2 separate regions of the Homo sapiens genome follow, and region 1 is linked to region 2. A link means that fine-mapping ties the variant in region 2 to the expression of a gene that starts in the linked region. Tissue or cell type: hypothalamus. Region 2 holds a variant in brackets; the other region holds the start of a gene. All regions are shown on one strand. Distances are from middle to middle.

Region 1 (8,080 bases), 38 kb after region 2:
ACATAGTGAGACCCAATCTCTACCAAAAAACAGTTCTTAATTAGCCGGGTATGGTAGCGTATGCCTGTAGTCTCAGCTACTTGGAAGACTGAGGCAAGAGGATCACTTGACCCAGGAGTTCAAGGCTGCAGTGAGCTATAATCGCACCCCACTGCACTCCAGCCTGGGCAACAGAGCAAGATCCTGTCTCTAAAAAAAAAATAGGCCGGGCACAGTGGCTCACACCTGTAATCCCAGCACTTTGGGAAGCCAAGGCGGGCGGATCACGAGGTCAAGAGATCGAGACCATCCTGGCTAACACGGTGAAACCCCATCTCTACTAAAAATACAAAAAATTAGCCAGGCATGGTGGTGGGCACCTGCAGTCCCAGCTACTCGGGAGACTGACGTGGGAGAATGGCATGAACCCGGGAGGCAGAGCTTGCAGTGAGCCGACACCGCGCCGGCCACTGCACTCCAGCTTGGGCGACAGAGTGAGACTCTGTCTCAAAAAAATAAAATAAAATAAAATAAAATAAAATTAGTAAATAAATAAGAAGCACCCATAGATGGAGGATGGTTTGCAACTATGTGCCCCCAATGACATTTCAGCAGCTAAGGACTTTTTGTGAACGCTGCTGGGTAGTATGTCATCTTGGCCTCAGCAGGAACACACAGCTTCTAAAGGTCAAGGCCCAGTGAGCTGTGACATCCTGCTGCTCACAGACCACTTCAGCGGCAGTCACTCCGTGAGCCACATCAGCATGGAGGGAGCACCCTGGGCGTGGGCACCTCCACACTAGCTCACGGTCATCTGTCTGGGACGCCATCACAGGAAAGAAGGCCTGCACCCTGACCACCTGAGCCTTACCACTATAGATGTACTACCATTCACTAGCTTGAAGAACCAAGTCACCGGAGAGTGGAAAGTGATTAATCAGACAGTGCTCAGAAGGGAGGCTAACCACAAGTCACCATCATGCTCTCATAAGGGACTTAAGTCTTCTGTGTTAATTATTGGTAGTAGCGGGACCCACAGCACCCAGCACAAGGTCCTGCAACTAACGGGCACCAGTAAGTCATTCACTGATGTAAAAAAGAAAAGACATTTGTCACAGACGCCAAACACTGGCTCTCTACAGGGGCTGAACTACTGTACCACAGAAAACAGCAGCAAATTCTTCCAAAACTAATGGGTTTTGTTGTTTTGTTTTTTGTTATTTTGAGACAGGGTCTCGCTCTGTCGCCTAGGCTGGACTGCAGTGGGGCGATCTCAGCTCACTGCAGCCTCAGCTTCCCAGGCTCAAGCAATTCTCCAGCCTCAGCCTCTCAAGTGGCGGGGACTACAGGCACGAGTCATCAACGCCCGGCTAATTACTGTATTTTGGGTTTCACCACGTTGGCCAGGCTGGTCTCAAACTCCTGAGCTCAAAGCAATCCACCCGCCTCGGCCTCCCAAAGTGTTGGGATTACAGGCCACTTTGCCTGGCCCCAAAACTAATGTTTTAATTCATGTGTGAACCAAATTTTCAGAGCCCAGAAGAAAATTTTCTTACAATCATGTGTATTTTTGGCTGTCAACTGACAGAAGACTTTTTGGTGTCCCTGGAAGCACATGAACCCCTCTACAAGCTACTGATGTTGTTGAAACATGTCCCAATTCCTGAAATCTCTGGGTTCCCACAGGGAAGCACACCAAGCATTTAGTGTACACACAAGTACACACCACACATAAAGCAGTCACGTTTACTCAGTTCAGTATCAAATGCCTGCAAGCACTGAATCTGGCCCACAGCCTGTAGCTACCATCAATAAAGTGAGTCCATAAAACGGGCGGGATGCCTACAAGTATGATACTGTATTTAAAATTCCCTTTCGTCACCGCTTAGGCATATGCTCCAGGCATCATGGCAGCAAACTCAATGCTACCTACGTGTGTAGGTATTTATTTTACCCAAACGTAACTTTTGACATTTTGATTTACATGGAGGAGGCAAGTAACACAACACGACTCTGACATCTTCCCAGCTGTCCATTGATTTAACTCTTGAAGGTTCAGGGCTACTATTTCACATGTAATTTATTCCCCCATCACTGAAATTCTCAATGACCAATGTAATCCGAAAAAGTCTGCTTAGCTTTTCTGAAACTAGAAACCCAAGACAAGTCAACACCAGCTGAAAATCAAACAAAAACAGTCTGTTTTTCATGCTTTCCCATCCTTGTCCCTGAATGGAGATCTTAAAACTGAAACCAAAGCCAGGTGAGGTGGCTCACGCCTGTAATCCCAGCACTTTGGGAGGCCGAGGTGGGCGGATCACCTGAGGTCGGGAGTTCAAGACCATCCTGACCCACATACAGAAACCCCATCTCTACTAAAAATACAAAATTAGTCAGGCTTGGTGGCGCATGCCTATAATCCCAGCTACTTGGGAAGGCTGAGGCAGGAGAATCGCTTGAACCTGGGAGGCGGAGGATGCGGTGAGCGGAGATCACGCCATTGGACTCCAGCCTGGGCAACAAGAGCAAAACTCTGTCTCAAAAAAAAAAAAAAACTGAAACCGAGCTATTGCTGAGTATCTCGGGTAGCCGGTTTAGACTGTGTTTTCTCCAAAATAGGGCCTGTGGATCCAAGTAAGCTCGAGATTCTTCCTGAAGAAGCAGAGAACAGAAGTGTGAGCAAAAACAAGGGGCTGACATGCACATAAGAACCCTTTATAAATTATCTTAGAAGGGGCCAGGCGCGGTGGCTCACGCCTGTAATCCCAACACTTTGGTAGGCCAAAGTGGGCAGATCACCTGAGGTCAGGAGTTCCAGGCCAGCCTGGTCAACATGGTGAAACCCTGTCTCTACTAAAAATACAAAAATTAGCCGGATGTGGTGGCGCATGCCTGTTATCCCAGCTACTCAGGCGGCTGAGGCAGGAAAACTGCTTGAACCCGGGAGGCGGAGGTTGCAGTGAGCCAAGATAGCGCCACTGCACTCCAGCCTGGGCTACAGTGCGAGACTCCGTCTCAAAAAAAAAAAATTATCTTAGAGGACGGTGGTCACCCCTGTAGTCCCAACACCTTGGAAGGCTGAGGCAGGTGGATCGCTTGAGGCCAAGAATTCAACACCTGCTGGGCAATATAGTGACACCCCATCTCTACAAAAAATATATATATATATATCTTATAGATGGGCTGAGAAAAATCCCCAGAGAACTGACATGTTTTTCTCTACTTTCTTCAATGCCAAGCTGAAAGTTTCACTGCTCGGGCAGTGCAGCTCTGGTTTCACGGGGGCTAAATTCCAAAGTGCGGGGCGGGGGTAGAATCTAAGAACCACACCCAAGAGAAAGACCAGTGTTTGGGCAGCAAGGCATCAACCTGGAGGGTACGGACGCCGGAGCACGCGGCTACTCAGGCCGAACCCCGACCCGGACCCGGCACGCGGCCTCGGCGAGGGCGGGCGGGAGTGTCCTCCTCCGGGACAGCCGGACTCCCGCCGACTTCTGGGCGGCGGGGAGGGCTCCAGGCCCGGCTCTCCCGGGCCCCCGCACGCGATGCGCGGCCCCTGCAGCTGCTCCGTGCCCCGAGACGCGCCCGAGGCCTCGGACCTCCAAGCGGCCACCGCGCCGCCAGTCCCGCTGCCCAGGGACACCCCGGCCCCAGCTCCCCGCGCGCCCACCCCCTCGGTCCCACGCGCGTCAGCCACCCGCGCCCCCCGCCGCTTCCGGGTCCCGCCCGCCCGGCCTACCGCGGCCTAGCCCGCCCCGGAGCCCGGCCCTACTCACCCGCGCGCGGTGGTGGCGGGACCCCGGGCCCGGCTCCCGGAGCGGCGCGGCGCGGTCCGGGCCCATGCGCTCAGCGGCAGCGCGGCGGGCGGGACCCGGCGGGGGCGCGGCCCGGGGCGGCCCCCATCTCGGCGGCTGCGGCTCGGCGGCCCGGAGGCGGACGCGGGGCAGGCCGCGGGGGCGCCGCAGGGGCCCAGCCGCCAGCTCCCACCCGCCCGCTCCGCGTGGACGCGGCTCCGGGCCGACTCCGGCCGGCTCTGGCGGCGGCAGCGGCCACGATCGCCTCCCGAGCCAGAGCCCGAGCCAGAGCGCCGAAGCCCAGGCCCGAGCGCCCCCGCCGGCGGCGTCCGGAAGTGCGGGGGCGGGGCCGGGGCGCGGGGACGAGGTGAGAGCGCGGGGCGGGGCCTCAACACGGGGCGGGGCCGGCAGCGCGGGGACGAGGTAAAGGGTGTGGGGCGGGGCTTCAGGCGCGGGGCGGGGCTGAAAGCGCGAGGATAAAGTGAGGAGCGTGGGGCGGGGCCGACAGCGAGGGGACAGGTGAGGAGCGCGGGGCGGGGCCGGGGCGTGGGCGGGGCCGGAAGCGAGAAGACGAGGTGAAGAGCTCGGGGCGGGGCCTCGGGCGTGGGGCGGGGACCAGGGAGTAAGGCGGGGCCCGCCTCGAGCAGAAGAGGTAAAGAGCGTGGGGCGGGGCCTCCGGCGCGGGGCGGGGCCGGAAGCGAGAAGACGAGTTGAGAAACATGGGCCGGGGTCTCTGCATGGCCGGGAGAGGGCGTGGTCAGTGCCTGCCGGGGGCGGGGCGTGCCGGGGGCGCGGTCGCGCCGTCTTCCCGAGGGGCGGTGCGGAAGCGGAGCCCGGGAGGCTTTGGCTTCCCAGAGAGCGGAGTGGGAGAGGCGGCGTTGCAGGTCCTTGGAATGGCCGCGGCCGTGGGGAGCACTGGGCGGACTGCGCGCCCCGAAGGGCGCACGTGGGGCGCAGCCCTTTTCTGCCGCCAGTACATCGGAGGGCAGTCAGGGGGCTGCAGGCCTCGGGGCTCCCTGCCCAGCCGGCCCTGGAGAGGAGGCCCTCGTGGGGACCGCCACGGCCTGCCCGCCGCCGTGAGGGAAGCAGGCTCCCAGGAGTGGGGTGGTCGGCAGGCAGGGATGGCCAGGGCCCTTGGAAGGTGGGGTGGGCTCCACCCTCCTGAGTCCCAAGGCAGCCTGGACTCACAGCGCCAGGGAACACGTTAGGCCCCAATATATGGTGGCTCTCACCCGGACAGGAGCCACAACCTCCAAAGAGCCCACCGGCTAGGACCCTCTGCCTTGATTTCTCCCAGGCACCATCTAGTATCAGAGAAGGGTTCTCCTTCCCTCCGCTGCCCAGGCCAGCCCGAGAGCAAGGCCATTGGAGTGTCCAGACCCCTGCACCCCTTCCCCTGGGCTGTCTCCACAGCGGCCCTGCCAAGGGGTCCAGTCCGATCCTGCCACCCTGGCTGCCCAGATCCGTGTCACTTGCCCTGCAGGCCACAGAGCATGAGGTCACAGCCCCAGGCACCCCACGGCAGAGAGGCACGGGCCCCCAGCAGCAGCCCCAGCACCAGCTCTGGCCAGCCCAACCCTGTCAGAACCAACCCTCTGCTCTCCACCCAGGCCTCAGCCAACCATCAGGCCCTCCCCAAGGAGGAGGATGTGAGTACCAGGATCTGCCGCCTCCCACAACAGCCCAGGGCCCTGTCCTTCCCAGAGCACTATTGGGCCTGGCACCTCCCGGGATGCTCCAGGCAGCCCCCTGGGGTCAGCTATACCCCCGTTTCACAGAGGAGACAGCTGCAGTTCAGGCCACACAGGACCAGCTCGCCTCCTGTTGGGTGAGGGCTCCCCACCTCGTCCGCCCCACACCTGAGACAACAGCCCTCATCTATCTGCCCTCTGCTTTAGGCCTCCCAGGGCTCCCTGCTGCCCACAGCCCTTCAGGGCCCTTCCTAAGGGCGCCTCCCCCACACCTTCCCCTAGATGCGTCTGGCCACTTGCCCGCCTCCGTGCTTCCGTGTCCATCATGTCCATACCTGCCAGCTCCCTCCAGGCACCTCTCACGTCACCCCCATGTCTTTCCCTGGGCTGTGTCACCCTGGATGCCCAGCCTCACCCTTCAGAGCTCCCAGGCAAGCACAGAAGTCCCAGCTCCAGGCTCCCCGAGCTTCCAGCCTACCCCCAACCAGATGCCCACAGGTGGGACTGCATGGGGAACCATGTGTGGAAGCCTCCCAGCCCTCGCCCCTGCCAGCACTCAGCATGGTGTCTGATGCCAGCATCGCTGTGTGGGAAAGGGGGTAGCATGGGACAAGGGCCACTAGGCTGTCCCCAGCCTGCCAAGGGCCCAGGCCCACCTCCCAGGGCCATCACTGTGCTCAGAGCAGGTGGGCAGGGGCTGGGGATATGAACGAAGCTGCACTGTTAGACCAACACCTGGCCCCGCTGGGTCCTGGCCGCAGGCACCCTGCCAGGTCCCACAGTGCTGGACACTGGGGCCTCCCCGCAAGCCCCCTAGCCCATTCAGCCTCAGAACCTTAGAGGAGACAGAGTGGGTGGCCTCCATGGTAAAGCACAGTTTCCAGGGATGAGGGAGTCCTGGGTGGCCAGACAGACAGCAGGACCTCAGACACTGGCCCCTGGGCTGCCCCCCGACTCCCAACAAGGTCCCCAATGCTTGCCTTGGTTCTGCAGAGCTGCTGCTGTGTCCGGGCCAGGCTCTCGGGGCTGTGTCCACGTCCATCCTCCTCTTGGCCCTCGGTGGCAGGTGTCCCCAGGCCCTGGGACCAGAACAAGGCCCTTGGGCCTCCAGCTCCTCGGGGCCCCTGCCCTGCAGGGACAGGAAGGGGGTCAGAAAGCCTGGAGGAAATGCAGCAGCCCTTCTAAAGTAGGTTGTGGTGTGGGTGTGGAGGGGAGATTCTCTGAGCCTAGTGGGGGTAGGAGGAGACCAGAGGCAGGCCAGGCAGAAGAGAGGTAGAGGAAGGCCCTGAGGAGGGGCAGGGAGGCGCGCGGGGGCCTGTGGTGTGCAGGGTGAGGTTCAGCCACCTCCCTTCCTCACAGAGCTCCTTGAAGAGGCAAACGCCCTTTGCTTCGAGCGTGAGTTTGCCACGAAGGCTTTTATTTGATTGACCGTAGATGACATTTAATCAGGTTTTGTTTCTAGGCACCAAATGAGACACTTAAGAGCAGACATGGAATTATTTTCTTCAATGTAGACATAAAAGGTATGTTTTTTTGTTTGTTGGTTTTTGGAGACGGAGTTTCATTCTGTTGCCCAGGCTGGAGCCCAGTGGCGTGATTTTGGCTCACTGCAGCCTCCACCTACCATGCTCAAGTGATCTTCCCACCTCAGCCTCCCGAGTAACTGGGATTACAGGCGTGTGCCACCACACCCCACTAATTGTTTGTATTTTTGCTAGAGACAGGGTTTCATCATGTTGCCCAGGCCGGTCTCTAACTCCTGAGCTCAAGGGATCCACCTGCGTTGGCCTCCCGAAGTGCTGGGATTACGGGCCCAAGCCACCATGCCCAGCCTAAAAGGAATACCTTGAAAATAAAGTGGCTGGCCCGGAGCGGTGGCTCACGCCTGTAATCCCAGCACTTTGGGAGGCCGATGCAGGTGGATCACGAAGTAAGGAGTTCGAGACCAGCCTGACCAACATGGTGAAACCCCATCTCTACTAAAAATAGAAAAATTAGCCAGGCGTGGTGGCGCACACCTGTAGTCCCAGCTACTCAGGAGGCTGAGGCAGGATAATTGCTTGAACCTGGGAGGCAGAGGTTGCAGTGAGCTGAGATCGCCCCATTGCACTCCAGCCTGGGTGACAGAGCGAGACTCTGTCTCAAAAAAATAAAAATAAAGAAAAGGCCAGGCACGGTGGCTCACACCCGTAGTCCTAGCAGTTCGGGAGGCCAAGGCCAGAGGATCACTTAAGCTTAGGAGTTCAAGACCAGTCTGGGCAACATAGTGAGACCTTGTCTCTACTAAACAATTTTTAAAAACTAGCTGGGCGTGGTGTTGCGCACCTATGGTCTCAGCTACTCGGGAGCGCGAGGCAGGTGGATCACTTGAACCCAGCGGTTGGAGGCTTTAGTGAGCTGTGATTGAGCCACTACACGTCAGCCTGGGCAACAGAGTAAGACCGTGTCTCCAAGAAATAAAAATTAAGAAAATAATAAAGTGAGTTTTGATGCCTTAAGTGTGTTTATCCATTTAACTGAGGAAGACCACTTATAAAAAATGACCCAAAGGAAACCCTGGAAGACACCCCAAGGACATTAGCTGGGGAGTGTTTGCCGCTGTACGATGTGTGATGG
Region 2 (8,089 bases):
AGCCTCCTGAGTAGCTGGGACTACAGGTGCCCGCCACCACGCCCAGCTAATTTTTTTGTATTTTTAGTAGACACGGGGTTTCACTGTGTTAGCCAGGAGAGTCTCGATCTCCTGACCTCGTGATCCGCCCGCCTCGGCCTCGCAAAGTGCTGGGAGTAATTACAGGCGCAAGCCACGGCGCCCGGCCAAGGTTTCTACATTTTTAAAGGGTGGGGGAAGAATCTGTGACAGGGACTGCATGCGGCTGCAAAGCCTCACATATTCACTGCCAGCCCTGCACGGGAAACGTTTGCTGGCCCCTGCTTGTGGCCTAGACCACTGTGCAGTGTGCCTGCCTTGGAGGGCATTGCTAAATGGACCAAAAACATTTCAGGATTGCACAGTGGGCAGCCAGGACAACCAGTGCCCCACGGAAAGATAGGAGATGCCAAGGCTGCACACTCTGCTTCTCTCCAGGAGCTGGCAGGGCAGTGTGGTCTCTGAGGGAGGCACAAGGTAGCTCTTTAGCAACAGGTTTTCTTTTATTTTTTTCTTTTTGAGACGGAGTCTTGCTCTGTCGCCCAGGCTGGAGTGTAGTGGCGCGATCTCGGATCACTGCAAGCCGCTCCCGGGTTCACGCCATTCTCCTGCCTCAGCCTCCCGAGTAGCTGGGACTACAGGTGCCCGCCACCACGCCCGGCTAATTTTTTGTATTATTTAGTAGAGACGGGGTTTCACTGTGTTAACCACGATGGTCTCAATCTCCTGACCCCGTGATCCGCCTGCCTCGGCCTCCCAAACTGCTGGGATTACAGGCATGCGCCACCGCGCCCAGCCCGCAACAGGTTTTCTTTATGAACCCTTTAGAAGATCATTAAAACACGAAAGTCAGATTATACATGGTCTGAATAATTACCCCAGGGTTAAGATAACTCACGCACAACCATCCTTCATGAAAGCCCTCGCCCTCTCCCAGCTATTAGAAAAGCTGCCTTCGGGCTGGGCGCAGTGGCTCATGCCTGTCATCCCAGCACTGTGGGAGGCCGAGGCGGGCGGATCACGAGGTCAGGAGATCGAGACCATCCTGGCTAACACGGTGAAACCCCGTCTCTACTAAAAATACAAAAAATTAGCCAGGTGTGGTGGCGAGTGCCTGTAGTCCCAGCTACTCGGGAGGCTGAGGCAGGAGAATGGCGTGAACCCGGGAGGCGGAGGTTGCAGTGAGGCGAGATTGTGCCACTGCACTCCAGTCTGGGCAACAGAGCAAGACTACGTCTCAAAAAAGAAAAGGAAGAAAGAAAGAAAAGCTGCCTTCGGAAGCACGGCAGCTCCAGGGATCCGTGCCGCACCCAGGGGCCTCTCAGAGCTGCCAGGAGACACAGGACGACTGAAGAGAGCGCCCGACCCAGGGCTGCGTGGCAGACACGGCAACTCCTGAGGCATCCTCGGCTGTCACAGCACCACTGAGTGTTGTGGGCAATGGTGAGCCGAGTCCAGGTCTGGCTCAGCCACGGTGGGCGTCAGGAACAAGTGAATCTAAAACTCACCTAACACTTGCCTCGGGGTTTGTTGAAGTGTCCTGAAGCCACCAACCTACTGGTTTCTTAGACATGATACTTGGATTGGGTAACCTCCACAGGCCTCCGTGGATTAGACACTGACCCCACATCTGTGTCCACAGCCCACAGCCTCTCGAGTGCCATGTGGAATGTTGTGAGCTTGCCGCCAGCACAAAAGCTGAGGGCAGCTGCCCCACCGGAATGATGCTCTTCACCTGTCCACTTTTTACCTCTGATTTGCTTTCGAGTACGTGTAGCAATTTCACATTCCAAATTGTTAAACACTTCAGTACAAACCAAGATGAACAGAATATCAAGAAAAAAAATACCTATTTATTTTAGGTCCTCCCTTTAGGAAACATATGTCCCTTTTCTTGGAGAGAATTAGGAGACTTTTTGAGAAAACTGAGTTGGCAGGTTACTTTTTGTTGTAGTAACAGAGTTTTGGGGAAGAGGGAAACCAGATGCTAGGATGCATGTCAGGCGCTCCGTGGGCTGCACTGCACCCAACCACCTGGCCCGAGGCTTCAGGACCACGGCAGGCACTGCTTCAACTCCAGTAACCTCAAGTCAGGTGCTGCTAAAATCACGTCAACATTTTATTTTGAAGATTCAAAATTAAACGAGGATGAAAGAAACCAGGAGAAGCCACACACAGCAGCTCTGCCCGGAAGGGGCAGGGAGCTGCCCCTGCACTACCACAGCTACCTGGGGAAAAACCAAGGGGCCAAGACCTACGGCAATGTGGGCTGGCTGAATCTGGTTCAGAAACAGAATGTGACAACTTGTTCTCCTCATCTGAAATTCAGGTTTTGGAAAAATGTTTAAAGACAGGCAAATGAAAAGAACAAACCAGCCAGGCACAGTGGCTCATGCCCATAATCCCAGCACTCGTGAGGCTGAAGTGGGTGCAGTTTGCGCCCAGGAGTTGGAGACTGCATAGTGAGGCCTCGTCTCCACAAAAATAATCATCATCATCAGCCGGATGCAGTGGCTCATGCCCGTAATCCCAGCACTCATGAGGCTGAAGTGGGTGCACCGTTTGAGCCTCGGAGTTCGAGACTGCATAGTGAGGCCTCGTCTCCACAAAAATTATAATAATCATTAGCCAGGCGTGGTGGCGCACGCTTGTAGCCTCAGCAACTCTGAAGGCTGAGGCAGAATTGCTTGGGACCAGGAGACAGAAGCTACAGTAAGCCAAGATCGCACCATTGCAGTCCAGCCTGGGTGACAGTGAGATCCTGTCTCAAAATGAAAAGAACCATAAAAATGGTACATACAGTGGGACCATCACTTAAAACATATTCATAAAAAGATGGGCAGAATCACCAGTAGGTGAGAAGTCCCTCTCTCCTCCTCCAGCCCTATCCAGATCTCCAGGCTTTCCTCATGGAGAACCCAGCTAAGCGGGAAAGACATCTGGGACACCACTGGCCGCAGTGGGGATGGAGGGTGGTGGTCCGCGGGCTCCAGCTGCTCACAAGTTCATAGCCGCTGGCTTCCTCCAATGCTGAGGCTGCTGCAGGGAGACCCTGGTTCCTGCGGCTCGGCCCCAGCCCTGGCTAGGATGGCTGGTGGGCAGGTGGCGTGTGGCGCACAGACCAGAGCTGGGAAGGTCTGAGCTTCATGGGTAACCAAAACCCCAAATGACCCCCACAGGCTGGCAGCCAGTGCCCTACTGCAACAAGACTGTTGGCATCATCTAATGGCTGGGGTGTACATAGGTCCCAAAAAGCCAGCTGCGAAGCACAGGGGAAGAGGTCATAAAACAAGCACGTTCCTACACATGGGGTTTCCCTGGACAATGAAAGAATAAGCTTCTGCCTGTCACCTCGAGCGTCACACATGTGTGGCCCAGGCCTCAGCACAACCACAGCATCTTCCCTCACTCCTGCTCCCAGCCCCTTGCCAAGTGGGTGACAGGGACAAGACAGGACCCTGTACTGCACCAGCGTCGGCAGAAACGCCACCCTCAGGGACCACATCACTCGCCACAGCCAGTGGTGAGGCAGCTGGCCTGTGCCTGTCTTTAAGCTGAAACCCCAGACTCTGAAAACCAAAGAGCAAACTCTAGCC[C/T]GGGCAGCCTACAGACTGTCTTAGGTTCACCCTCGATCCTTCCTCATAGGGAGGTCCCAGCAGCCCTGGTCACAGAGAGAAGCAACCGACACAAAGCTGAGCCCTCACTTGTACTGCTTGGAGGACAGCCTCTGCGGTACAGCCTGCCTGCATGTCCAGACGCACTCTCACTGAGACCTGGGGAGCCAGGAAACACTTTTCCTGAAGACAAAGCCCAGGCATCTCTGGGTCAGCACGAAGCCCCCTCTGAGCTGGCCGCGCTCTGCAGCAGGGTGGGACTTACACGCTGCCATCCGCAAGAAACAGGGTGTCTGGGGCAGGACTTACACATTGCTGTCCTCAAGGGACAAGGTGTCTGGGACCGGACTTACACACTGCTGTCCGTGAGGGACTGGGTATCCGGGGCGGGACTTACACGCTGCTGTCCGTGAGGGACAGGGTGTCTGCATCGCTGGACAGGCTCTGCTGCTCGCTGTCGTTGGCACTGGTGGCTGGGGCCAGGGCATAGCCGGCATTGACATAATAGGGGTTGACTGGCTCCCGCCAGGATCCATACCTGCAAACAGGCAAGCAGGGCATGTTAGTGACAGCCTGCCAACAGCCTCTCATTTTATTTCACATTTTCATGTTATCTGAATATCTCAATGTATTAATTAAAAACACAAGCAATTTGGAGAAAATAAGGAGCATGGAGAAAAGACCAACATCTCCACCTGTCCTCTTGTCCCTCTGTCCTTTTCAACGGGGTGCATTAAAGCACCGGGCATCTTTCCAGATCTCTCCTCTGATTTTAGGCGGGGGCTTTGGTGCACACACAGAGCATCCACACGTGATCATTTGGGTTTGTTTTCCGTGCACGGTACTAGAAATGGGACGCAGATGTTCTGCTCATTCTGCAGTGCGCGTCGGGAGAGGACACTGGGTTTTGATCAGGATGAGGCCCTTGGGATTCAGCTCAGACGTCTCTGCACCTGTGCCCAAGTCCAAGCATGGCCACGGGACTGATGTCAGGGCCGGTATGTGACAGTGTGTGTGGGTGGTGCCACCTCCTGTCCCCCTACCTAGAGCAGAGGTTCCTCCCCAGCTCCTGGGACGATTCACCTCCTCTTGTTACTGCAAAATTAGCCAGGAAATGACACCTTTTTTCAATCTGCACTTCCCTGATTAATGGTCAGATTGGCAGTTTAGCGTATTTGTCATTTAAACTTCTTCCTCTTTATCTGTTCATATGGTTTACCATTTTCTATGGGGTGGATTATGAGTTTCTTGGTGATTTACAGAAGTCTTCAAATAGACTTGTTATTAATCTCTGGTTATATACGCAAAAAACATTTTCTCCCTAAATGTCATTTTTCTTTTTAACATTGCTCAGGTTGATTTTGGTCAAACAAAATTTTTCATTTCTATGAAATCAGACAGGCCGGGTGCGGTGGCTCATGCCTTTAATCCCAGCACTTTGGGTGGCCGAGGCAGGCAGATCACGAGGTCAGGAGATCGAGACCATCCTGGCTAACACAGTGAAACCCCGTCTCTACTAAAAATACAAAAAATTAGCTGGGCGTGGTGGCGGGCGCCTGTAGTCCCAGACTACTTCGGAGGCTGAGGCGGGAGAATAGCGTGAACCTGGGAGGCGGAGCTTGCAGTAAGCTGAGATCACGCCACTGCACTCCAGCCTGGGTGACAGAGCAAGACTCTGTCTCAAAAGAAAAAAAAAAAAAAAAAAAAGAACAGCCTGACCAACATGGTGAAACCCCATCTCTAGTAAAAATACAAAAATTAGCTAGGTGTGGTGGCACGCACCTGTAATCCCAGCTACTTGGGAGGCTGAGGCAAGAGAATCGCTTGAACCCGGGAGGCAGAGATTGCAGTAAGCTGAGATCGCAGCACTGCACTCCAGCCTGGGCGACAGAGTAAGACTCTGTCTCAAAAATAAAATAAATAAATCAATCAGATATTCCAATCTTTTCCTTTATTTATTTATTTATTTTCTATTTTGGAAACACAGTCCTTCCTTATTCCAGAATTACACATATATTCTATTTTTCTTTATATGCTCCAGTTTTTTTTAGACCTTCACCTGAAATGTGTGTATACAAAATCTAGGCCAGTCCAGCAGAGCCTAAAGGTAAAAAATAAAATAATAAAAAATAAATAAAATCTAGCTCACTCCTTCACATCAAAATGGAGATACAGCTGTTAGCATTAAATACCAAATAACCCATCTTGTCCTCAATAATTTTAAGCGCCTCTCTCCACCACATCTAACTCCTGTCAAAGGCATGTGCCCCTTCCGGGCGCTCTGCTGTGCTGCCAACCAACTGGCATGTGGACTCTGCAGGGTCCCTAACTGCCAAGCCCCACAGTGTGCCCTGAGGCTGCCCCTTCCTTCTAGCGGCTGCCCCCACTCGGCTTTGCTTTCCCTAGTTTCAGTTACTTGCGTTCAGCCAAGGTCTGAAACTAGGTGCGCACAGAGCGGTAAGACTGCGAGAGAAAGAGACCAGCTTTACAGGGGGTTTATCACAGTGCACCCTGACAGTCGTCAGCCTCACAGGGGGTTTATCACATTGCACCCTGACAGTCGTCAGCCTCACAGGGGGTTTATCACAGTGCACCCTTACAATCATTCCATTTGATTCACAATTTTTTTAGTCTCTACTGTGCCTAACTTGTAAGTTAAATTTGATCAGAGGTGTGTTCCCAGAGGGGAAAACAGTATATACAGGGTTCAGTACTATCGCATTTCAGGCCTCCACCTGGGTCTTGGAATGTGTCCCCCGAGGGGTGATGACTACCTCAGTTGGATCTCCACAGGTCACAGTGACACAAGATAACCAAGACACCTCCCAAGGCTACCACAATGGGCCGCCCTCCACGTGCACATGGCCGGAGGAACTGCCATGTCGGAGGTGCAAGCACACCTGCGCATCAGAGTCCTTGGTGTGGAGGGAGGGACCAGCGCAGCTTCCAGCCATCCACCTGATGAACAGAACCTAGGGAAAGCCCCAGTTCTACTTACACCAGGAAAGGCCCTTTGACAAGATGGGAGGGGGGCAGGCAGCCCAGCACCTTGGACTCTGGTGACATGGGATGCCTGGGGAGATGAGCGAGCACTGCGAGCTGGGGACAGCCTGTGGCGGTGCTGGGCAGGGCCTCGCTGCACGGGGCCATTTCCCCTGGGGCTGTGGCCTCCATGCCCTCTGGAGGGTATCGCATGGGGCCAGAACACACAAGCAGGGCCTTTCATACGAACAGTGCTGGTGACCGTGCTCAGCTGCTCGGGAGGCAGGTGCAGGACCCCATGCCACAATGGAAAACACGGTTCACGATGTCAGGCCCCTGCCAGGGCCGATGTCCACGAGTCCCTCTGACCCACCCACTGTGGCCTGGTCGCTCACTGCAGGCCACAGACAGTCACGGCCAGGTGACGGCAGCCTCAGGCTGACAGCAACCATGGGGCCGCTCTTGGGAAATGGGTTCTCTGGAAACACCGACCACCGGTGGCTGGGCTTTGTAAGTTTGGTTCACTCCTCGTCTCCTCTCTGTACCTGACATAGAGCAGATAAAATGATACCAGCCTGCAGCTTCAGGCTCTTTGCTTTAAGCATCATGCAGTATTTATAAATGACACCATTATTCCTTTGATACTTAAAGCCACAGCTGCTCAGCAGCTACTGATATTATCACTGTAACAACCACTGCAGCCAACCTCAGATCTCAGGTTAAGTACTAAAGTCTCCCTATTACTATGAAGGAACACTGAACTTTGGTAACTTTCTATAAACATCTATTTGGCCAAATAAAAACATTTCAAATGGAAGAGAGAAGGCCACTGCCGCACAGAAGTTTAAGAAGTCTACGTCCACGGCACACGGGTGCATCTGTAGCCCACGGCACTTGGTGCGTCTGTAGCCCACAGCACACGGCGCGTCTGTAGCCCACGGCACATGGCGTGTCTGTCTTGGCACGCACTGGAAGCACGTGCCCTGCCCTCATGCTGCCATGGGGCTCACACCTGTCCCGTCACTTGGGAGCCACATACAGCAGAACGAAGCCTTCTGTGTTCATGTGTCCAATTCCAAATCCTTCTCCCACTCTGACTTCCCAGGTGTGCCTTTCACATTTTTGGAAAACCTGTTTGTCTTTAAAATGAGAAGCAGGAGAAACGCAGGTTTCCCATTTTCCACAAGCTCCAGCACACAGCAAGTTCCACTGCACACAAGCACCAAGGTCAGGCAGCAAAGGGGAGAGAAGCGGGAGAAGGCGGCTGGGAGAAAAGAAAAGGAAGAAGGGCAGCCTGTTTACTATTGATCTTCGTAACAATCCCAGACAACTGCCCTGGCTCTCAGGATCTGCCCTCAGCACTCAGATGGCTCCTGTACCTGAAGACACAGGCGGCCGGGCTTGGCCTTCACTACCAGCAGATGCGACCAAGAACGTTCTGGTCAAAGACACGTCCAAGGGGAGGTCACATGGGA

Evidence for each region. PIP is the estimated chance that this variant, and not a neighbour inherited with it, causes the effect.
Region 1: AXIN1 starts here. The variant in region 2 is fine-mapped to the expression of AXIN1 in hypothalamus (GTEx, PIP 0.97).

The regions. Positions count from the first base shown.
Region 1 is chr16:348,614-356,693 of GRCh38, forward strand. AXIN1 (axin 1) reads right to left here and starts at 4,110. Exons shown (of 11, transcript NM_003502.4): 1 at 3,756-4,110. RefSeq lists an enhancer at 616-895 and silencers at 3,329-3,388, 3,399-3,468, 3,489-3,538, 3,819-3,898, 3,999-4,478 and 1 more.
Region 2 is chr16:310,514-318,602 of GRCh38, forward strand. AXIN1 (axin 1) reads right to left here. Exons shown (of 11, transcript NM_003502.4): 3 at 4,030-4,170. Among named protein-coding and RNA genes, the nearest start is that of PDIA2, 31 kb to the left of the region's middle. RefSeq lists enhancers at 6,232-6,985, 6,986-7,737, 7,738-8,089. The variant C/T (reference allele first, on the strand shown) is at 3,615.